4 linked regions of the Homo sapiens genome follow. The protein of the gene in region 1 purifies or fractionates together with the protein of each later gene. This does not show direct contact. Each region holds a gene or a part of one and is shown on either strand. Other genes may lie near its edges.

What was found.
Region 2: the proteins of RALB (region 1) and PAM purify together in Homo sapiens (affinity purification with mass spectrometry; 2 studies listed by BioGRID and IntAct, with this or other methods). This does not show direct contact.
Region 3: the proteins of RALB (region 1) and ALDH18A1 purify together in Homo sapiens (affinity purification with mass spectrometry; 2 studies listed by BioGRID and IntAct, with this or other methods). This does not show direct contact.
Region 4: the proteins of RALB (region 1) and TPP2 purify together in Homo sapiens (affinity purification with mass spectrometry; 2 studies listed by BioGRID and IntAct, with this or other methods). This does not show direct contact.

The regions. Positions count from the first base shown.
Region 1 is NC_000002.12:120,248,983-120,255,880, forward strand, and holds the start of RALB (ras-related protein Ral-B), read left to right. Parts: upstream 1-3,869; 5' UTR 3,870-3,998; intron 3,999-4,075; exon of another isoform or gene 4,076-4,749; intron 4,750-6,898. UniProt on the Homo sapiens protein: Multifunctional GTPase involved in a variety of cellular processes including gene expression, cell migration, cell proliferation, oncogenic transformation and membrane trafficking.
Region 2 is NC_000005.10:103,024,281-103,030,233, reverse strand, and holds the end of PAM (peptidyl-glycine alpha-amidating monooxygenase isoform e preproprotein), read right to left. Parts: intron 5,104-5,953; coding exon 4,900-5,103; intron 2,053-4,899; coding exon of another isoform or gene 2,050-2,052; coding exon 1,996-2,049; intron 1,348-1,995; coding exon 1,169-1,347; 3' UTR 518-1,168; downstream 1-517. UniProt on the Homo sapiens protein: Bifunctional enzyme that catalyzes amidation of the C-terminus of proteins. Alpha-amidation is present at the C-terminus of many endocrine hormones and neuropeptides and is required for their activity.
Region 3 is NC_000010.11:95,611,708-95,618,748, forward strand, and holds part of ALDH18A1 (delta-1-pyrroline-5-carboxylate synthase), read right to left. Parts: intron 4,908-7,041; coding exon 4,770-4,907; intron 2,455-4,769; coding exon 2,259-2,454; intron 2,157-2,258; coding exon 2,035-2,156; intron 1-2,034. UniProt on the Homo sapiens protein: Bifunctional enzyme that converts glutamate to glutamate 5-semialdehyde, an intermediate in the biosynthesis of proline, ornithine and arginine.
Region 4 is NC_000013.11:102,676,957-102,680,470, forward strand, and holds the end of TPP2 (tripeptidyl-peptidase 2), read left to right. Parts: intron 1-1,270; coding exon 1,271-1,360; 3' UTR 1,361-3,002; downstream 3,003-3,514. UniProt on the Homo sapiens protein: Cytosolic tripeptidyl-peptidase that releases N-terminal tripeptides from polypeptides and is a component of the proteolytic cascade acting downstream of the 26S proteasome in the ubiquitin-proteasome pathway.

The sequences.
Region 1 (6,898 bases):
TTAAAACCAAAATCAAAGCATGTCAGCCTCCTGTTTGAACCTTGTGTTAGTCTTTTTTTTTTTTTTTTTTAAGACGGAGTCTTGCTCTGTTGCCCAGGCTGGAGTGCAGTGGCATGATCTTGGCTCACTGCAACTTCTGCCTCCTGGGTTCAAGCAACTCTCTTCTCAGCCTCCCGAGTAGCTGGGATTACAGGCATCTGCCACCACGCCTGGCTAATTTTTTTGTATTTTTAGTAGAGATGGGGTTTCACCATGTTGGCCAGGCTGGTCTCAAACTCCTGACCTCATGATCCACCCACCTTCACCTCCTAAAGTGCTGGAATTACAGGCGTGAGCCACCGCGCCCGTCCGTGTTAGTCCATTTTGTGTTGCTATAAAGAAATACCTGAGACTGGGTAATTGATAAAGAAAAGAGGCTTAATTATTAATTAGCTCATGTTTCTGTAGGCTGTACAGGAGGCATAGCACTGGCATCTGTTCCTGGGGAGGCTTCAGGAAGCTTCCAGTCATGGCGGAAGGCATAGTGGGAGCAGGTGCATCTCATACTGAGAGCGGGGATAAGAATAGGCGGGGAGGTGCCACGCACTCTTAAACAACCAGACCTTGTGTGAACTCAGAGCAAGAACTCACTCATTGCCAAGGAGTAGCACTAAGCCATTCATGAGGGATCTGTCCCTATGATCAAAACAGCCCCCCACCAGGCCCCGCCTCCAACAGTGGGGATTACATTTCAACATGAGATTTGGAGGGGACACACATCCAAACCATATCAAACCTCTTCAGCAGTTTCTACCGCACTAGGAGTAAATTTCAAACTCCTCTGTATAACCGAGAAGCCCCTGCATCATCTGGCTCTTGCCTCCCCTTCCAGCCCTGTGTGACTCACTTTCCCCTGCTCACCATTCCAGGCCTCCTGGCCATTCTCAGCAGTACCAAGCTTTCTTCTGCCTCAGGACTTTGCACAGGCTTATGCCTCTGCCTGAAATACTCTCCTGTCCTTCCTCCTACCCCCATCTTTTGCTAAGATTGATTTTTCTCATCCTTGAGGTCCTAGCTTAAATGTCACTTCCCAAGAGAGATCTTTTTTGACCACCCAGTCTAAAATAATTTGTAATGACATAATTTGTAATTTTTGGGGTGCTTGTCTGTTTACTGGCCTCTTCTCTGTCCTTTTGTGTGAGTTGTTCACCTTGCATCCGTCAGAGCAGGCTAAGCTATGTGCAGTAACAAACAACTCCCACATCGTAGTGTCTTCAAACCATAAGGGCTTATTTCTCAGTCATTCTAAATGTCCATCACAGGTTGGTAGGGGGCCTGTGCTCATTGTAGAAACCCTGGCTGATGGAGCAGTCACATTTCCTAACATTCTCAGTAGCCATACCAAGGACAAGAGAGCTCTGGAGGGTCTTATATTGGCAATTAATTTCTCCAGCCTAGAAATGATTATGTGTCATTTCTGCTCACAAGTGATCGGTTAGAGCTAGTCACATGGCTCCACCCAACTACAGGGCTAGGAAGTTTCCAGTGCTCACAAGAGAGGAGTAGAAATGTTTGTCAGACAGCACTAAAGACTCCCACAGTAATCAATAAATACTTTAGAAGGATGGAGTGTCTAGAATGCTCTTTCCATGGCAGCAGTCGTTTACAGCATCCTTAAGGAGTCCTGCTGGGGATCTTGTATTTCTGCTGCTCAAGCCCCTGGCTCTGCTGGGAGTCAGAGTTCTGGTAGGGAAACTCAGCAGACAAGAGGTCCCCTGAGACCTGGAATGAGCCACCTTAGAGGCAGCTGAGGCTGGTGGCCTCTTGGTTCCCTTCTCCCGTTGGGACACGTTTCCCCTATTGGTGTCCTGTGTGAGACAGCCCCGCCAAAAGGGTCCTGCCACTCCTCTCTGAATATACTGCACAGCTCAGGGTCTGGCATGTCCAGGATCTGAATAGATGATCCTGCTGGAGGAGTCCCAGTAGGACCCCTCCGAGTTCTAGGCAGGCAGAGAATGAAAGCAGCATTTCTCAGAAAGCCCTGTGCATCCTGTTACCAATGCAAAGGAATGGCACTTCAGCACCCCAGAAAAGGTGGGGAAACCTCCTGCATCTGCTGTGGGTCCTAGGGGATGGGGGGCAGGTGGGAACAGTAGAATCCTGGCCTGTGGCCTGATTTCTGACCCTGTTCCCTCAACTATCATACCCTTTTCACTTGGGTAGGCTGCTGCAGCTGCTCTCCTCTCTATACTTGCATTTGACAAAGGGTACCACCACAGCAGGCCCTTTCCACCAGGCTGCACGCGGTCACACTTGATACAGATGGGCTTTGGGAGATAAGGCTGTACCAGATTGGTGATCACACACTTGACTGTACATCGTGGCCTCTGGTGGCAATCACTAATGTAAGCTCACATTCCTGAGGCACTCACCAAGTTCCTAGCACTGTACTGAGAGCTCTATGTGGACTTGCATGTACATCTTCTTACCTATAGCATGGAGGTGCTGCTATTGGGCAGCTGGTGAAACTAAAGCCCACAGAAGTAGTTTCCTAATTAAGTAACTGCTAGTCACAAGGTAGAGCCCTCCTTTAATCCTATGCTTCCAGACTCCAAACCTGTGCACTTAACTGTTACTCCGTAAGAAAAGGTTTGGGTCTGATTCCTCTTCTAGGTTATAAATACTAGGGAGCTTCCTCTTTGAGAAGCCTCCTACCCCATCTCCTTACTGTACCTAGCAAAGTGTCTGTCATACGATTAGCACTCAATAAAAGTTTTAAATGTGAATGAGAATGGTAAAAACAGAATACTTAGTAGGCTAACACTAGGATATTCTTCTGATTGCACTTTTTTGTTAAGTTGGTCACTTAAGACTAAGGTAAAGCTTCTGTGCTTTTTGATATAGATGCTGATGGAGGGACTGGATCTGGTAGATACATAGCAATCTAATCATGGCCCAAAGCCTCCAATATAGTATACACATGCATCCTAACTTACAATGATCAACAATGAAAGAATTAATTACACTGTGCTAGCAGCCATGGATATCACATTGCATAAGAGATAGTTCCCTCCCTTAGAGATAAGAGGCAGACGTTTAAACTGTCAGTTGCGATGGCTTGTGACTCTCATGAGGTCTGCGTAGGGGTCAGCACGGTCACAAAACCTGTGGAGGAGGAGGTGGTTAGGAAGGAAAATCCACCGAGATGAAGCTGTACTGGATACAAAATCACACGTTCCTGGGCTTTGGCAGGGAGCTTGCCCACTGCACTTCCTGCCTCGAGGCTATGGCTGGGGTGGGATTCTGGCCCTTGTAGGCGGCCTGGGTCCAGTCTCCGCCATGCACTCACTAACTCCATTACTGCTAATGGGATGTCATCAGCGAAGCGAGTGGTGGCGGCAGGTGGAGTCCCGCCCCAAGACCCCCGGGCGGCATCCCCATCGCCGCGCTCCAGCACTCTTCGCCACCTCGTAATTTTCTTCTGTTTCTGTATGATCAGGTCTGTCCTTCGCTTTTGCTTTCCATTACTTCGTCCTAGCCCTGGCCTGAATCCCACAACTGGCGCCCCACCTTGTGCACCCGCACCCGCCCTCAATACCGGCGGGCAGCTCCTCCACTGCCGCAGGGTTACCAGCTGCGTGTCCGAGGGGCAGAGAGAGAAACAGAGGGGGACGGGGCAGGCGCGCTGGGCCCGCCCCCCCGTGCCTGGGGCAGCTTCTCATTGGTGAAACCTCCTCCCCGGCCGCCCGCTGCTTGGAAAATCAGCCTCGGATTGGCTGACAGCCCCCCGACGGGCGTGGCTTCCGAGGAGAGGGCAAGAACGGAAGCGAGGGCGCGCTCTCGAGAGGAGGGGTTGCCTAGGCGACGCCGGAGGCGCGCTCGGGGGGTGGGAAAGCGAGCCCGGCAGCTCAATGACAAATCGGTGGAGGACGGCTGGGGTCCGGCCCCGGGAGGGGGCGGGGCGCGTTTAAGAGCTGCGGGCCGGGTGCGGACGGCGGAGGCGGCGGGACTGGTCCCTGGTAAGGGCGCGGCGCCCGCGGGCCCCGGGCGGGGTGGGGCGCGGGCTGGGGAGTGGGGTACGCCGCACGCCCGCAGCCTCTTGCTCCCTCCGTGCCGGGCTGTGGCCGGGCGGCGGCAGGACATGTCGCGCCCCGAGGCCGGCGGAGGGCGACGCCCCGGCAGCGGCCCCGCTCCGCTCCGGGAGGACTCCCTGGGGGAGTCTCGGCTTCCTGGGCTGCCTGGGGCTGAGGAAGTGGGGGCGGCCTCCGCCTCTCCCTTGTAGCCGCGGTTCCTTCCCTATCCCGCAGATGGCTCTGCTTCCACTTCCTGCCGCGGGCCTCCCGCTCGGGACCGTCCACTTCCTCAGTCCTCCGGCCGCGGCTTGGGCAGGGTCAGGGCTGGGAAGTGTTGCAAAAACTTAACTGCCCTCGGAACTTGCACGCGCCGTGAACTGGGCGGTGTTCCTAAAGGGCTTCGGTTTGCTGGTTTTGTTTTGGTCCTGTCTTGCAAATGAGCATAAAGTTGTTTCTCCCCCAGCCTCCTCCCCTTTCCTTTCTGATAGGGGCCAGCGGCGAAGGGGCTTCTAAGGGGAAGCGCCTGGACTGGGCATCGCCGTCCCGGTTCTTGCCGCCTGTGGGAGTGTGAGGTTAACCGTGCTCGGTGCAGGGTTGCGGGGCGCGGAGCTTGCTGCGTCCACACTGCTTGTGTGAGCAGTGTCCTCTCTGTGCTCATTTCCAACGAGAAACGTTGGAACTTTGGTGTTCTTATCAGGTGAGTCTTCGGGAGAGAAGTGCTTGTGCCTGGCGGACTGAATGAATTGGCCGTGGAAGAGACTTGGCTGATTGCTCATCTGGGTTACCTGTGACTCATCTTCAGCCCTTGTAGAACAGTGCACTTTCTGCTCTGTCCTGGTTTCCTAACCTCATTTCTTCTGAAGTTTTGGGGATGGATGGTGGGCATGGAGTATCAGAGGGGATAGTGAATCTTTTAGAGGTGTCAATGACTGATGTTCCAAGCAGAGCCATAAGATTGTTGGATGTCAAAGCTCAGAACCGGTCAAGGCTCAGAATGCTCCTTAAACCTGGAGCAATAGAAGCACAGTATCGAAGTTCCCAGAAATGGGCCGACCATGAAAGGTAGCACTGCATATTGGGAAAAACAGGAGGGGTGAGTTTGAAGACCTGGGTTTGATGCAGGTTCTGAGAGTTTACCGGTGTTGTGATGTGGAGCACGATCTTTCCCCCTCTGAGCTCCAGAGTCAGCAACTGTAGAAGGGTGATGATAGTTATCCTAATTGTTAGGATTAAACGAAATAGGAGCGGGGGAGAAGAAGGCCAGGGAGACATATCCTTTGTGCGTGGCTTTAGTTGTCAGCCGGTCTGCTTTATTCTGACCACATCTGGGGCTTTCCTTCCTTGCCCATTCACATTGCTTCCCATTGGAAACAGCACTCTTATCGGAGATCTCAGCCAGATTTCCCTCTGCCCGAGGAATAGAACATTTTCCCAGGATTGTGTGTGGAAAATAGTGTAAGTTATTAGATATCTTTTGGGAACTTGGGACCTAGACCATAAGGATAAACAGGATTTAGAGTCTTCCACGGCATATGAAGAGATTTTGGTAGAAGATGAGGGTAGAAAAGTTCTAAATTCTTGCCTTGACTGAAGATGGCTTGAGATTCCATGAAAAATTTTAAGCCTGAGAATTGAGATAATCCTTTTTTTGTTTGTTTTTGGGGGCAGAGTCTTGCGCTATTTCCCAGGCTGGAGTGGAGTGGTGTGATCACCGCTCACTGCAGCCCCCACCTCCCAGGCTCAGGTGAGTCTCCCACCTCAGCCTCCCGAGTAGCTTGGTACAGTCTTGCACCACCATGCCAAGCTAATTTTTGTATTTTTTGTAGAGATGGGGTTTCACCATGTTGCCCAGGCTGGTCTCGAACTGCTGGGCTCAAGCCATCCTACCACCTTGGCCTCTCAAAGTGCTGGGGATCACAGGTGTGAGCCACCCCGTCTGGCAGGGATAATTCTTTCTTCCAAATCACGTAATCCTACTATGCCTCTTTGCATTTAGTTGCTAAATTCTTACCCCCCTCATGTAACTTATGGAAGTTAGAAACATCATTAGAGACCTTTCTTGAAAGCTAAATTTGGAGACAATGTAAGACTAGAGTGCGAAGAGATCTAGGTGAACTCTGTAGTTTTCCAGTGTAACTTGTCTCCAGATGGTATACAGGAGTCCCACTTTTCCTTGGCTCCAGTTACTGCTAAACAGCCCCTGCTCTAGACATGCAAGACGCTTGGTTTTTTTTTCGTTTTGTTTTTTTAAATGAATGTATGTTCTGAATGTTATCGCAAAGAGAGCCGAGCACAGAGGAAAAGGAACTCTTCCTTCATCACATGGCGGAGTAGTTAAGGAGGAGAAAAACTAACAGTTACTGAGCATCAGCTGTCTGCTTGGCACAGACCACTGATCCAAGCCATACCAGTTAAATATGTGGCCTTGGAGATTTGACCATGGGCTGTCTCCTTTAGCTCCTCAGTTCTTTTGGTACCTAGGAATATAAATATTGGTGTATGTGTACATATATTCTTAGATATTCCAAAAAGCAGAGGGGCCAGTAGGCAAGAGGGTTGATGAGTCTTGGATAGGTGACAGTGGAAAGAAAGATGAAGAGGATGTGGAAGTGAGTGTCAAAGAGGGACGGTATATGTGCTTACTAGAAGCAATTGCAAAATTCTAGCCAGGTCTCAATTTCAAGTTTGTCACTTTAAAAAAAGTAGCTGCTTATAATTTTCCTTAGTGTTCTCCTGGCTGTTTTTGTTTTTGGTGATGGTGGCTAGTTGTTTTTTAGTTGAAATCTAAATGCAGAAAAGAAAAATGCCATTAATTGATAATTACCAATATATTGTTTTCATTGTTG
Region 2 (5,953 bases), on another chromosome or scaffold:
CTAGGCTGGAGTACAGTGGATTGATCATAGCTCACTGCAGCCTTGAATTTCTGGGCTCAAACAATCCTTCTGCTTGGCCTCCCACAATCCTTCTGCTTGGCCTCCCAAAGTCCTGGAAGTATAGGCTTGAGCCACTGTACCTGCCCTGAAATTATTTTTTAAAAGGAAAACTATTATTAGTGATCCCTACTGATGGATCATTTGCATATGTAATTTGAGACACAGGTATCCACTTAGCTGTGATTACCTTTTATTAAAGTATTTATCCTCTGATTGATATATAGGCAAAAACCCTCTTTGGATTTTAGAAGAGCCTGACTTTACAAATTTATGTAAACTCAGGCTGGTTTTTAATTTATATTGGCTAAAGTATCTTCTAAATTTTGTACAATACACACATTTCTTTTAGTTGAAGACATCGAGTAAGTTTCACTAATATTTGTGGGTTTGTGTAATTATTATAAAAGTTGTATGTAAAATCTGCAAATACGCAAAAACTGGAAAATACACTGACAGCTAATGCTCTGAAAACACTTTATTACACAAATTACATTCAGATTCTGAAAATAGTGTTCTAACAGTGTAACCATCTAAAAATAAGACATCCCAAAAACACACCAACTGAAGAAAATTTAAAAAAGAATTTAAATAGAGACTTTTTTATTTCCTTCATTGCAATATAATGTTAGTGATTTTAAAAAAATAGGAGATTTAGCAGCTTTGTCGTCATGTAGCACAAAGTTTCTCTTTACTGCCACAGGCTAAGAATGCTGAACAGGAAAGGCACCAAAGAAAGACACTGGCAATGAAAGTGCTATTGGGAAAATACTGTGTTCAAGCAAAGAATGGGGTTATTTACATCCACCAAAAAGTCTCAAAAGTGTAAATGGGCAAATCTTCCATTGTTAGATTAGAATTATGATGGAAAAAGAGGACGGTTTCTCTAGTCTATGTTCATATAAAGACAATGGCACTGTTATGAACTTTTAGGAAACTCCTCAACTAGAAACAGAAGCCAACTTAACCAAAACGAAGTAAATAAAGTGTGTACAGTCCCACACAGACTAGTACAGTTTACAATTAAATACACAGAACTTTAAACGTGCTAAAGGGAAAGGAATCTGACATTCTGGGTAAATCTTACTCAATCTAAATCAAAGCTTGGTTTTCAGGAGGAGGAAGGTGCGAGCGCAGGCAGAGGTGCTGAATACTCCTCTTCTGATTCACTTCCATCATCCTCTTTCTCTTGGTCACTGCCCTCAGTGCTAAGCCGGTCAAACCCTTTTCGACTGTAGCCCTTACGGCTTGCAAAGAAATTACCAAGGTTTAAGCCTCCACTTCCCTTTCCTGAAAAAAAGCAAACAATAACAGAATTGGGTAAAGTTTGCAGCAATGTCTGTTACCTTGTAAATTCTTAAATGATAAAGTCAGAAGGTGGGGATGGGAAAGGGGAGATTATTTTATTTAAAAATAAAATAGAAAAACAGACAGAGACGTATCCTACAGAGCCATATAGATGCTACTATTAAAGAAGAAAAACAAAAGCTCCCAAGTATTATGTATTTCTGCAGGAATATTTCATATTCACTTTCACCTCCTGCTTTTCTCTAGCTCTCTATCCAGAACTAGCCTCCCTGGAGCAGCTCCTCATTTCAATGACTTTAAGAAAAGGTCATCTTTACTATGACAAACATTGACATGCCAACAGGAGTGACAGAAAATTTGCTGAAGACAAATGAAGCCAGGTAAAAGGCAGGGGAAGAGAATTAGATAATGCAGAATGGGAAAAATAAAACTGGGAAATCTGCTGCCAGACCCATGCACTTCAGTTTAGTTTATGGTGTGCATTCTGTATTTACTCTGGGAGATGCTAAGCTGCATACAAGGTGCTTTATCTTCAGAGACAAAATATGAAATATCTCCTTGCTTTTTAAAAGACATGTGCTTGTTGACTTTGAACCAAACATGAAGGGTTCTAAAAGGTCATAGGCATACCTCTAAATCTTCCCAGTACTCTTCCTGAACTCGTCTCGAGTTTGTGTTCAGAATCTGCTAAAAAAAGATGGCACATTTCAAAATGAGTCCCAGTCATCTTTCTCAACCCATGCACTCAACTTCCAACTTAAAATAGGAACTGGTAAATGATAAAGCAAGGCCTGGCTCTTGTCTGTATGCAATTCTAATTTTTAAGAAAGGCGGTATATTTCTGAGACATACATAAAGGGCCCAAGCTGGGTTTGACTCCTGCCCGTGTCTCTTACTGGCTGTGCAGTCTTGATAAATTACTTCTCTGAGCTTCAGTTTTCTCCTCTGACAAAAGAAAGGTCAAGGAGAATCCCTGTCTGTAAGGCTGAGATCAGACACTGCATGTGACACATTTAGAACACTACCTATAGATATACAGTAAATGCTCAATAAATCATAGCTATTTTTTTAATCAGGAAATGTTATTAATAATTTATAAAATTTTTCCATCTTTGGTTATGACAATTTAGGGATATTTGCCTTCAGCTTTACTCTTTCTACTGACAGTACGTATCTTGCTTGAGAAAGCTTTGGATCCATGTATATCGTTTCTTCTTTATGTAAGACATAAGTGAAGGGAAAGCACATGACACCCTGAGTATTTTCCAAGCATAGTAGGTGACCTAAATGTTCCCAACAGGACTGCCTATCTCCATAAAGGACAGACTCTCTTTCCTTATGGGGAGACAGAACTCCCAATGGGTTTCATTTTTTCCCTTGCTGTGTCTCTCCCTGTACTATTTCCCAGGCTTCATCACTCCCTCAAGGGCTATGGTCAGGAAAGTCAGGCCTGGGGTTGTCCTGTTAGGTCTTTAACCAGGACTGAAGTCAGCATCATGGAAAAAGATAGCGCAGATGAGAGGAAAGGGAGAAGACAGTGATGTGGAAAGAAATAGGCAAGAAGGGAAGAAGAATCTGGTAAGACTGTTAGAAAGCCAACAAATTAGATTGTAAGTTCTGCAAGGACATTCCTTAGTTTTGTATCCCCATGTGCCTAGCACAGTGTCTGATATGGAGTCAATACATAATAAGGAATGATGAATAAATGGAAGGTCCATTAGGGTTTTTAATAACCTTAGACTGGATAAGATCTATCAAGAACAAATTCAGAAAAAAAGTGAGAAGCTGATCTACTACTACTACATATGAAACTGCAATTTTTCTAAGTAAAACACGGTCAAATAATGGCAATTTTCTAGGGTTCTACCTGGGTCTCTACCTTCCTAACACATTCCTGTAAAGTCAGCATCATGTAACAGTGCTGTGTCACATGTGCTTAACAACAAACAGGAGAGACCAAATCTTCCTTATTCCCTAGCCACTGCTTCTGCCAGATTGGGTTGGTTACCACAATTCCTGCCACCTTCCCCTAGGCCCCACTGTTCCTACTACTCTGTGTATTTATCACTGCACTTACCACCCTCTACTATAACTTTTTTGTTTCATGTCTCTTTCATATGTTATCTATTCTGTGAGCTCGGTTGATTTATTCATTCATTCTTTCAACAACAATTTATTAAACCACTAGTATCAGAAACTATTATTTGTGCTGGGGACATATCAGTACTCAAGATATGGATTCTTGCTCTTTTGAAGCATCTATATAACACCATGAAGACAATGACTATGTTTATTTCTCTTTGCCCCTACTTATGACAGTTCCAGATCTGTAACATGGACTTAATAGAAATCCTTTTTGGGAAGAGTTAACTATATTTTTATAGAGATTTATTGATGGCACATGAAAAGCAAAATAAAGTCTAATAAAAATTCCCTTTTACAACATATTAAACTGAATTTTCTGTTTTCTGTTTCCATGCCTTTTTCTGTGTCAGGGCTTTGCCAAGGGCACTGAATCCCTGCCATGGCTGCCTTGACCTGAAATAGGATCAGATGCTGTTTCTTGATCAAATGCTCCCCCTCTCCCTGATCCATGGATTTCTTCCCACACACAGCTATAGACTTGCTCTAGGACCTGGGGACCCAGCCAAGGGACTGCTACTGAGCGGTAAGAAACATGAATTGGGTTGTTTATTTATTTAGATGTCCTAAAATAAACTCAGCTCTTGGATCCTATATTGTGATAATGATTTCATAAAATACTAACTCTGGTATTGGACTCTGCCTTGTTCAGTTATGGAAGGCTGATGAGCTAAATTATGACTATTCAAAAACTATCAAATGGTTTGTTATAGAATTAATTTTTCTTGAAAACTAAGGTTTAAGACAAGTGTTTTTTATAACTTCTTATGCCTTTTGTTACTTTATTACCAATGATTATTCATCATAACCATTGGTGGTATTGAGTACTTCCTAGGTTCCAGGTATCCTGATAAATGCTTATGTACATTATTTCATCTTTGTACAACCTTGTAAGGTAACTATTTTATCCCCACTTTTTTATGAGAAAACTGGTCTGGAGAGATTAAGTAACTTGCCCATGGTCATGTAGCTAGGAGCCTAATGGGAGAAAAACACAACCTGAAAAACTGACCCAGGTACTTTGAGGACTGGGCCTCTTCCTAACAGCAGGTATCTCCTCCTCTGATCCTTCAGCTAATTTATACTGACTCTACTACCTACAATTTCGTATGGACTCATTAATTGGACTTAAGCCAATTGCTAAAAGATAGTATTAAAGGTTATATTTTAATCTAACTATCCAAATTTCAGAGTCTCCAGATACTATTTTGTACTGTGATATTAACTAGGGGCAATATTTGGAACATAGACAATAATGTCAAAAATGGTAGAGAGCATTAAAAACAAAAAAACAAATACAGTGAAAAAAATCCCAATCAAACTCCTGAGGATAATTAGGCCAAACACTCTTTCAAAGGCAGGTTCCAAGTTCACGGGGCTCATTTTACTTGCCTCCAAAGGCCCTTGATTTTTTCCACCGAATAAATATGGCAATGGCCAGCAGGACAACCACCGGAATAACCAGAAGGGTTGTAATGAGAACAACAGGCACTCCCGAGCCTGGCTCTTTGATCAGTTTCTGTTTCTCTTGCATCTTCTGCAATTCTGAGGAGGTGGGTTTGTTCTCCATTTTGGTTTCAACAACTGCCTCGGCTTCTTCAGGGAAAGAAGAGTTCACAATATTCAACTGACTCAAAGATTTCAAAACCCCCTTACCCACCCCTACCCAGTCAAATCAATAACTGTTCACAAAGAACTTGTTGACTCCAGTGTACAGGGGTTTCATGTTTTAATACCTGAATCTACCAAACTGGCAGCAGGCATTGTGATTAGTTATTTCCACTGAATGGTTTTTCACCTTCAAATTAGTTTTCTTTTGTTCTACTTTTAATATGCTCTTTAGCTATAATTCCACAGAATATATATCCTTTTGTATTTTTCCAAAGGTAAAATTAATAAGACAGTACTGTGTAGGGGAAAGAACTGGTGTGCATACTGGAATCAAACAAACCTGGGTACAAATCCCAATTCTCCTATATACTAGCCGTATAACTTTGGGCAAGTTACTTAAATTATCTGGGCCACAGTAACTTCATCTATAAAACTGTAATAATAGGACCTCCTTCATAAAACTGTTGGGTGTAAATGTCTGTCATAAAAAATGTATATAATAAGTGTTTGTTTCCTTGTATCTTTAGTTTAAAAATATTTTTCATGTTCAATTAATTTTTGGTATTTCACATGGACAGCTGCACACATTAATGCTAGGATTACAAAAGAAAAAAGGAACTATGTGCTTTTCAGGCTCTTTTATATTGTTTTCAGCAAAATGTGAGTACAGACAGATGAACTGTATATCCTTTTGTTACTGATGAAAAGAACAACTATTATAATAACTAAAACTATTCTGTAACATTGGCAGGTACTGGGTAGGTATCAAGCCTAAAGTACTGTTTGGGAAATTGATGCAATGAAACTATATAAGCTGCTGCAGTGATCTTAATAA
Region 3 (7,041 bases), on another chromosome or scaffold:
ACGCCTGTAATCCCAGTACTTTGGGAGGCTGAGACGGGTGGATAACTTGAGGTCAGGAGTTCAAAAACCAACCTGGCCAACATGGTGAAACCCCGTCTTTACTAAAAAAATTAGCAGGGCATGGTGGCAGGTGCCTGTAATCTCAGCTACTTGGGAGGTTCAAGCAGGAGGAGAACTGCTTGAACCTGGAAGGCAGAGGTTGCAGTGAGCCAAGATTGTGCCACTGCACTCCAGCCTGGGGCACAGAGCAAGACTCCGTCTCAAAGAAAAAAAAAAGAATAAAAAAGAATGTGCAAGGCGTTTAGTGGGTTATCAACACAAGGGCTTGACTTCTGGCATTTTCCTAAAATGAATACTTGACAATAAAGATCCCAGTTCCTGCATATGGTACCTAGGCACTAGACTCGTGTGGAAAAAGGGAGGTGCCACATATACATTGCTACTCCCTGTACCCTAGCGAAGTCCCAGGTTTGCTTTAGAGGTAAGCAGTACTTGGTCAGGTGCTTTCAGCACCTGAAACTGTGGCTACTCATTTGATTTCCAACTGCGTCAGTCTGGCCCCACCTCTAGGTTCAGCTCAGCCCCAGGCTCTGGCTCTAATCCTGCTGCTGGTTAGAGGAATTTAAGGATTCTGAGGCTGGTCACCGAGGATCCCAATCACAAGCTGGATCCCACTTAAACCTTGTTTTCTGAGACATCCCCAGGACAGGGTTCATGCCTTGATTCTTTGGGATCAAGCTTTTGCCTTGGCTCAAGTTATAAGTGGTGTCTGCCTTATCCTCATGATTCCCGAGGCCCTGCCATTGTTTCTTATCTGGGATCTCACTTCTTCTGTGTTCCTTGGGGACTGGAACCCCATCCCTGTGCAAGTCATCCTTCTAGCTTTACTTTCTGCCATCCAAAAGTGCTGTATGAAGTACACACAGTGACTCATTTTGATTTGGAATTTCAAGGCCATCCTCATTTTAATGACTGAGGATACCACTTGTGTGTTCAAATTAGGTCTGGGGAGGGATTTAGTCCTGGCTAAAGGAGAGCTTTCCTCCTGTCTAATCCAGTTCACTGTGGTGCTTGGCAAACACAGGTGCCCAATCAACAGGCTTCCTTACCAAAGTAAAGTAAGGTCCCCGAACATGAATGACCATGTGATCTAACTTCCTTGTAATCCATGGAGTACAGTTTCATTTTTAAAACAATTCTTTCCAGTTCTCACTGGGACCATGCCACATTTATAAGCTAACTGGAGCCTTCCTTTCCAGTCAAAGGATGGAAGGGAAGAGACATATGTTCAGAGTCAAAGCAACCAAGGCCAACAAGCACCTTCTCTACTGCCATGCTGGTTTATATAACTCTGAAAGTGTACTATGACATCAGAAATTAAAGCTTAAAATGCATCCATGCAGAGAGTTTAACAGATTGTCCATTTTTGCCTTGAGGGCATCTATTATATTTTCTTGCAGGCATGAATTTAGGACACAGCACAACTTTATATTTGAAACTTACTGGCTTTTGGTTTGTTTACAACCTTAACAATATAGTAAAAACATAATCCAGGGAGACATTCTACAAATTACTGAATCCCAAATATCACTGCATTAAGTACACTAATATTGGTAACCAAAGACACTGGGGGGAGGCAGTGAATGTACATAAGTTTTTGGTTTGAAACGTTTCTGCACCATCTTTTCAAATCAAATCCAAAAAATAATATATGCTTGGGAACACCTTGCATATATAAGGTTGCCAGAAACAGTTCAGTCAGCATAGTGCCATGTGGTCTGTCTTACCTTTGAACCCTCTTTAGCACACAACACATTCCACTTTGTAATAAAGCTATTTGTGTATTGGTTTGGTTCGACTACTAGAGGGCAGGGGTTGTGTTTTACTCACACTTTACTTAGCATGGAACTTTGTACACAGAAGATATTAAAAAATATTGTTTCTTAAACTGCCTTATATGGTATGGCTGTGCCTGGTCTAATTCCACAGGCTTCTAAGACAGGAAGTAATGTACTAGTCCTATGGAACTCTTACCTGTTCCACTCTCAGCATATCAATGATCTGGTCAAATAATGGTGTCCTGAGCAGATCCCGGTGGATTAACAAAGTCTCCAAAGCATTACAGGCAGCTGGATATTCACATTTAGAGTCTCTGACTGAAAGAAGATGAGCAAAGAATTGTTTCCATTGACATGATCCAGAGCTGCAGAGGATGTAATATTTCTCCGTTGTGAAAGAGAAGACCCCATCCAGCTCACCTAGCCTGGTGACCTTATCAACACTGGCCTCGGAATCCACATACATGTGACAGATCCCTTCGCTGTGCCCCATCACTGGAATCCCCTTAGCAGCTTTCTGGATGTCTCTGACCAGCTGGGAAGAGCCACGTGGAATGATCAGATCTATCATTTTGTCTAGGCGGCAAAGATCTTCAACTTCTTCTCTGGTATTCACCTTTAGAAGGAAAGAAGAAAAAGATAAAGATGACATCTGACCACACAAAATATAAAAACAGCAGCTTCCCTTTTACAGATAAACATCTGTACACTCTGAGAACTAAGTGAGACACTGTGAAAACTTATTCTAAAAACAAAATTAAGTTCCCGATCATGGGAATCAAAAAGTTGTCCAGCAAATGCTTATCAAACACTATATACTCGGTGCTGTGCTCCACATCACATATCACGCAGGACACTGCATGCCGTCAAAGAGCTCAGCATCAAGTAGGGAAGGCAGCACTAGGGTACTGCTAGCCATAATACAGGGCAGACAATTTTTAAAATGCCAGAAGCAGCACAAAGGGGTATCTATGGAGGTTAAATGCAGTACACTACTCCAGGCCATGAAGATCACAAAAGGGAGTGGCTTCTCTGTTGGTTTTCTATTCACAGCATTGAGGAAATGTTGGGTTGGTCTTGCTAGGGAGTCATGGTTCTCATGACTTCTGATGGCAACTTCTACCCTGGGATGTGGATTAGAATGACTTAAAGAGCCTGTGAGAGGATACTGAGATTATGGGCATTTTGTTTTCTCTTGATTTTTAATTTTTCTCCACATGGTCATATTACTTTTATAACAAATATATATGTGTGCCAGAATGTTCACAGCAACTTTATTCCACATAGCCCAAAACTGGAAACAATCTAAATATTCATCAAGAGAAGAAAAGATGAACTGTAGTATATGCAGGTAAATGGAACACTACCCAGCAATTAAATGAGAAAACTACTGCTAGATGCAACAATGGGAATGAATGCCACAGACATAACGAACAAATGACAGGCAACATAAACGTGTGTTTTGTTTGATCTCATTTATATAAATTTCAAGAATAGGCAAAAGGCAGGGCGTGGTGGCACATTCCCAGCACTTTGGGAGGCTGAGGCAGGCAGATTGCCTGAGCTCAGGAGTTTGAGAGCAGCCTGGGCAACATGGTGAAACCCTGTCTCTACAAAAAACAAAAAATCCACAAAAGTTAGTCAGGTCTGGAGGCACACACCTGTAGTCCCAACTACTAGGAAAGCTGAGGTGGGTGGACTGCTTGAGCCTAGGAGGCTGAGGCTGCAGTGAGCCGAGAGCCAAGATTGTGCCACTGAATTCCAGTCTGGGCAACAGAGCAAGACCATGTCTCAAAAAAAAAAAAAAAGGCAAAAGTAATTTAATGTGACAGAAGTCAAAAAAGTAGTTTGTGGGGAAGGGGGCTACATATTGACTGGGAAGGGCACAAGGGGGCCCTCCAGGATGTTGGACTGTTCTGTATCTTGATACGGCTGGTGGTTATACATGTGTGTGTGTGAACAGTCGCAGAGTGGTTCACAGGATCTGTATACTTTACTGTACGTATGTTACACATCAATAGGAAGAAAAGGAGGGAGGGCACCTGTGTAAGCTAGGAAGTGGTGGGGCTGGGATTTGAATCCCTAAAATCTGCGCTCTTTCCAACCACTATGTGGGCATAAGAAAAAAACCAGATTCTGGTCACTGAGTGTGTAATGAGCAGGTTTGTAGACATCCTCCCAGTAGCCAACAGAATCCTGGAATGTTGGAGCAAATGAGCCAAAGAAAAAAAAGGATCTGGAGTCAGCCTAGGTCCAAATCTAAACTCTATCACACACCATGTGACTCTTGGGGAATTACTTTACCTCTGAATCTGTTTTTTCCCAATGTAGAAAATGAGTCTAATAATTAATGATATTTTCCTTATGGGACTGCTGTGACGATCAAATGAGTTAACGGATAAAATGAGCCTTGCACATAGTAGGTACTCAACAAGTAGTAGCTATTATTATCAAACTTCATTTGACAGTTGAGGAGAATGAGAAATGGTCAGTTAAAGTGATGACCTTAATAATAATAGTGATAACAGCATGATCTCATACTCAACACACCGCATGACAGTTTATGACAAACTTTTGTAAAGTTTCTCATCTGACTTACCCTAGATCACTCTGCCAATGACAGGAACCTAGGCCTCACACTCTAGTTCTGGTACTCCTGCTGCCTTGTGACCCAAAGAATGAAGGTCTAATTGACATTCTTGTAAATAAATAGTGCCAAGACGCAGCTGTAAGGGAGGGGCCTTCCTAAGCCACTGAGGACCCATCTGGCTCTGCAGAATGGCCTAAAGTCTGAAGGCTCACAGGCCTGCTGGAGTGTCAAGTCTGCTTGTAGTAGTGTCTTGGCTCTGTGTGGCCTAAGTTTTGCTTTAAATTCCCAAACACCTGATCTGGCCCCTCTGGGCCTGACTTGGTGCATTCCCAGGGACCTACCAGTTGCACGGCCTCCTTGACTCCATGGATTGAGAGAGCCTCCTGGGTCAGGAGGTGGAGAATCCGGTTGCTGTGTGCAGCCTCCTTCCCTCCTTTGAGTAACAAGCCATTGCCACTTGCGATAGCCAAAGCTGCCACCTGCAGATCAAAGGGAGAGCAGTGGATCAAAGGAGACAAACAGTAATAGCAACAGTGATGTTAGCATTCACAAGCACTCCTTCTGTGCTAAGCACTGTGTTCATCATTTTAGAAGGCCTATGCTGTTTCATCTTCACAACACTGCAGTGAATTAAGTGCCTGTTTTATCCCCTACTTTACAGATAAGGGCACTGAAGCCCAGAGAGGCTGATGACTCCCCGAAGTCACACAGCTTATAAATAACAGGGATGGGAGCCAGACTGAGGTGGTTTGACTCCAGAACAAACCACTGGATTTTAGCAACTAAACTATATGGCTTCCTTAGCACCATTAGCAAAGAGAACTGAGTTGGCCAGGTATGGTGGCTCACGCCTGTAATCTCAGCAATTTGGGAGGCTGAGGTGGGTGGATCACCTGAGGTCAGGAGTTCGATACCAGCCTGACCAACATGGTGAAACCCCATCTCTACTATAAATACAAAAATTAGCCGGGCATGGTGGCAGGTGCCTGTAGTCCCAGCTACCCAGGAGGCTGAGGCAAGAGACTTTCTTGAGCCTGGGAGGCGGAGGCTGCAGTCAGCCGAGATTGCACCACTTCACTCCAGCCTGGGCAACAGAGTGAGACTCCGTCGCAAACAAACAAATAAAGCAAAGAGAACTGAGTTAAGTGGCCAGGGCCACATGGCACCCCCCACCGTGGAGAACAGGGTCTTCAGCCACCTCTGTAAGGAAGCACTTGCTTCATCTGATCAGGCTGAGGCTGGGCAGCTCCTCTGGCCACATCCTACTCTGGCCTTGGAATTGTTCTGAGAGCTCTAAGTGCTTGGTGCTAAGAACCTGGAGAAGACCAGAGCTCCTGCCAGCCCCTGGGCAGCTGTGGTAGAGACTGCTGAGAACAGAGTCTTTTTCCCACATGCCTGTCTGGGGAGGAAAACGTAAACCATCCAGGAGGAGGGCTAGTTGCCTTGTTAGAGCAAAGAGTGAGTGACACTGACCTGATCATCCTACCTCTTACAAAAGTTAAGTAAACTTTCTCCAGACATAAACACACAGAATATTGCACACAATTTTTAGGATTCATGGATTCTGTGAAACCATCCAGGGCTGAGTCCAGATGAGGAGCCTTAGCTGTAGTTAGCTAATGAGGTATCAGCTCCTTGTGAGGTATCAGCTGGTATGGATGAGTGGTAGCAAAGAAATTTCACGGATACAGTCCACAGAGAGACTTAGGCCCATTTCTACTAGCAGAGGTGAGTCTGGCAGTCATCACTGGGGCATTTCTGCAAGACAGGTATGTGGCCAGAGAGGTAGTGTGCCAGCATCAGCCAGGGACTGAGGATAGGCCTCAGTGGTATGGGAGTCCCTTGGTGAACACACTGGTTTTAGGGGATGTCAGAGAGTACCCTTCACAGAGCATTCCAGATTCCACAGTCAACTATGTCTTATAGTAAAGAGGTGCTAGTTTTTTGTTTTTACAGTAGAATTTCCCTTTGAGACTTTGGGGCTAGTGCAAAGGAAGAGCTGGTATCCTATAGGACAGTCCAGTGGGGGAAATGCTCCCAGAATTCTGGGAGGCAGTTTAGGGTAATAAAGTGGGGCCACTCTCTAATGACACCTTGTATTTCCCAGCATGGCTGCTTGGCAAGAACTTTAACGCATGCTTTCTCAACCAGAGGCTGTGATATGTCAACTTGCTTAAAGAGGGTTGCATTCTTTTCTCTTTTTTGAGATGGTATCTCGCCCTGTTGCAAGGCTGGAATGCAGTGGCACGATCTCGACTCACTGCAACCTCTGCCTCCTGGGTTCAAGTGATTCCCCTGTCTCAGCCTCCTGAGTAGCTGGGACTACAGGTCCCACCATGCCAACTAATTTTGTATTTTTTAGTAGAGACAAGGTTTCACCATGTTGGCCAGGATGGTCTCAATCTCTTGACCTCGTGATTCACCTGCCTGGGCCTCCCAAAGTGCTGGGATTACAGGTGTCAGCCACTGTGCCTGGCCGACAGTTGCATTCTAATTTCCATTAACTACTGAAAGTTCTTTTTCCTAACAGATGTACTTATAGGAAGCCATCAGTGATACTGACAATAAAGGGGTCCTTTTCACATGGGCCAAGCCAGTTATTCATGAATGACA
Region 4 (3,514 bases), on another chromosome or scaffold:
AATTGGTTTATGCCTAAAGGATACGTGAAGGCAGGGGAGTTTGGTGGTGCCAGATTCAGCTAAAGGGCAAGTCCAGGTTAATTATACTTTATATGTAAGGTACCCTTTGGATGTAAAACTGATCAGTAGGTTCCTCTGAAAATGTTTGATAATTAGAGTAAGCTATATTCATATTTACTCTTAGAGCTTTTTGTTTACCTTCACCAGTCAGTCCAAATTGTAAGACATTTTAAATTAGCTCCTCCAGATCTTTGACTAGATTAAGAGAACTCTTTCTGGAGCCAGGTGTTGATATGTCTAATGTGGTTCTCATCATGTGGAATCTGATCCGTGAGCACTTAGGTTTGTAAAGCCAGTGATCCCTGCCGACGTTCACATCAGGGAGTGTTTCTTAACTTGTCTGCCCTCCACTCTGCCCCCCCCGCTGCCTGTTCTCCACACAGCAGCTGGAAAAGATGCCTTTTGACACCTGCTGTTGAATCTCCATCACATTTGGAATAAAATCCAAACTCTCCCCAGTGGTCCATAAGGCCCCTGCCTACCTCTCCAGACTTATTTCATATCACACTTGCCCATACAAACTCTGCTTCTGCCACACCAGCATCTCTGCTTAGCACAAACAGCCACACCTTTTCCTACCAAAGGACCTTAGCACTAACTACTCTGGCTGGATGGAATGTCTTTCCCAGATTTTCGCACAGATTTCTTGTCATTCAAACTCAACTGGAGTATCACCTCCATAGAGATCCTTTCTTAACCATCTAACTCCCCAGTTAGTTTATATTGTGTCAAATATTATTTCTACTGTACACCTGATAAATATCTTATTACTTGTTTATTCATTTATTAATTTGCTTATTATTTGCTTTTCCTGAAAGTGGGAGGTGAATTTGTTCAGTGCTGTTTTCCCAGTGTTTGACATGATAGTTACTCAGAAAAAATGAATGAAAGGAACTTAGGTTGGTAGGAAGGAAAGGAACAAGTAAGTTGGAAGGAAGAAGGGAGGAACACAGGTTAATAGGAAAGAGGGAAAAGGACAGTTGGTAGGGATAATGATGAGAACAATAGGTTGGTTGGTAGGAAAGTTGGTTGATAGTAAGAAAAGTTGGTTGGTGGGAAGGAGGATCAATGGGTGGGTGACGGTTGGTGGAAGGAAGGTTCTATATGCTACTACCTTACTGTTACTATTTAATACAGAATTTATTCTAAATACTGAGCTTAAAAATCTGTCACTTCCTTTATAATAATATATTATTGTATTTTGTTGTAGCTGATGAAGTTACTTGGATGGACCCATTGTGCATCTTTTACTGAAAACTGGCTCCCCATCATGTATCCTCCCGATTATTGCGTATTCTAAAATAGGAAACAAGACTTTAAATTTTAAAAAAGGAAGTTTTATAGTGAATGGGTATAAAAACAAATTTGTGGCATTTTTAGTCTAATGCATGTTTTCATCCACTATCCAGTACTGATTATTAAAATGACATGTATTTATCAGAGAATTCACTGACGTGTGGCTTAATACATGTAAATCTAGACCTCTGACATCATGGTGTTTTCTTAATGCCTCACATTGCTGGCACGGGGATGTGCCCTGCCTGCCAGCACCTAGGACTTCGAGTTGGGTTGCAGCTTATGACATGCATGATAGGTTTTGGAAGGTAACTTTTAACTGCAAACCTATAAAGTACTATTTTTTATTTTATAAATGAACAGGGTTTTAACGTGCTCAACTTTAATTTTTTTCAATTGTATGAAGGCCTTAAAAAAGCTACATTAAGCGTAGCTAAAATTATTTATTGGACTAAAAACTAACAGAACTTCATTTCCAGAATTTTTTTTTTTTTTTTTTTTTTTTGGCAAATGTTTACATTCAATTAAGGGGAAAAAGTAGAACCAGCACAAATGAGTGGCAGTTGCTGGAGCATAACTGCTTCAATAAATCTTCATCTTGGGGTAATTACAGGCAAGTCATTTTCACATCCTCTTGAGGTTCAGAGCATCAGAATGAACTCTATGAATACATGTGTAAGTGCCAGACAGCTGAATCTTTATCAGGTATTGTAAAGATACACATATGATATGTTTATTAAAATTGAAATAATGTAAAACACATGAATAAATTTGCAAAACCAAGATCACAGTACACCATATGCACTCTGGTACCTTAATTTTTTTTTATAAATAATAAAAGTGAATATTGAAGCTTCTTAAAGTTGGTCTTAATTTTTCATAAATAAAATTTGGGGTTATAACAGAAATAATACATTAAATACATAGACAAAAAAAGTTAAACATAAGATAATCTATTTTACAGTGTTTCTTATAGGCTTACAATTATTTGAATGTATTTCCAGTTCTTGTATGATTAACTTTTGTGCATATCTAACTTTTTATTATTTTTATCTTTGGCTACTGCACGTGCATCTCTCGTCATTCCTCCACCAAATAAACAGACAAAAGTAGTATTGAAAAGTTTACAGTCCCTTATCTAATGGCAAATTGTGTGTATGTATGATTTTTTTATCTTGTTCTCTTAAGATTTACTGCTGCTTAAAATTACTACCAGTAATCCTTAGTCACTCCCAACTGTTTCTGCTGTATCTCATGAAGTGTTAGAGCGTTTATGAGAAACATAAATACATGTATAAGCATATTGGTCACACCTTCTGGGCTAGCTAGGGTCCAAAGTCTATCCATGAAAGCTACATGCATGTTCTCTCTCACACACTCATGGACTTTCACCTGCACACACATACAGGTCCCCATTTGTATAGGTTTAGTCCAGTAAGAGAATGGAGAAGCTCAGTAAAGGTAGGATGACTTCCCAAGGTTATACGGCTGATCAACTGTTGGAAATTAATTACAGACCTTGCTTTACAACCCAGGTTTTGCTATTTCAGGTAAGTACTACCTACAGCAGGAATCAGTAACGTTTGGCCCTTTAACCCAAACTGGACTGCTGCCTGTTTTTGTAAATAAAGTTTTATTGGAACAGAGCCATGCCTATTCATTTGTGACTCCTGTAACTGGAGGCAGTTATACAAAGCTGCCATGTTAGCTCCTGTTTCCTGTCTGGTTCATTCTGCATTTCTGTGGTGACAAGTGGACCCAAGTAAGCTCTAGAAGATGTTCTCAGTAAAATCATTACTGTTTCTATGTGATTACATTAAAAATAATACAAACAGTAGGATGGTACTTCAAAAAGTCAAGCAGTTTTCCTGTTTCTGGTCACAGTAGCCAATGTTTGCACACCCACTGAAAACAATTGAAAAAACTAGGTAAAAATAACTTTTTAAAGAACCATTAGAGACAGTACAGGGTATGTGCTCAATACTGGTTCTGTGGCCCCTTTCCAATAATAAGAGGCAGTTCTCAATTGTTACTGGGAGGAGTTTTGCCATCTCATGGGATTTCTTTCCTTCCTCATGTTAGCATGCTTTCTGGGAGAACTTCTCTTTACCGCAGAAGAGCCCCACCTGCTTCTCTTCTTAGGCACCACAAATCTCAA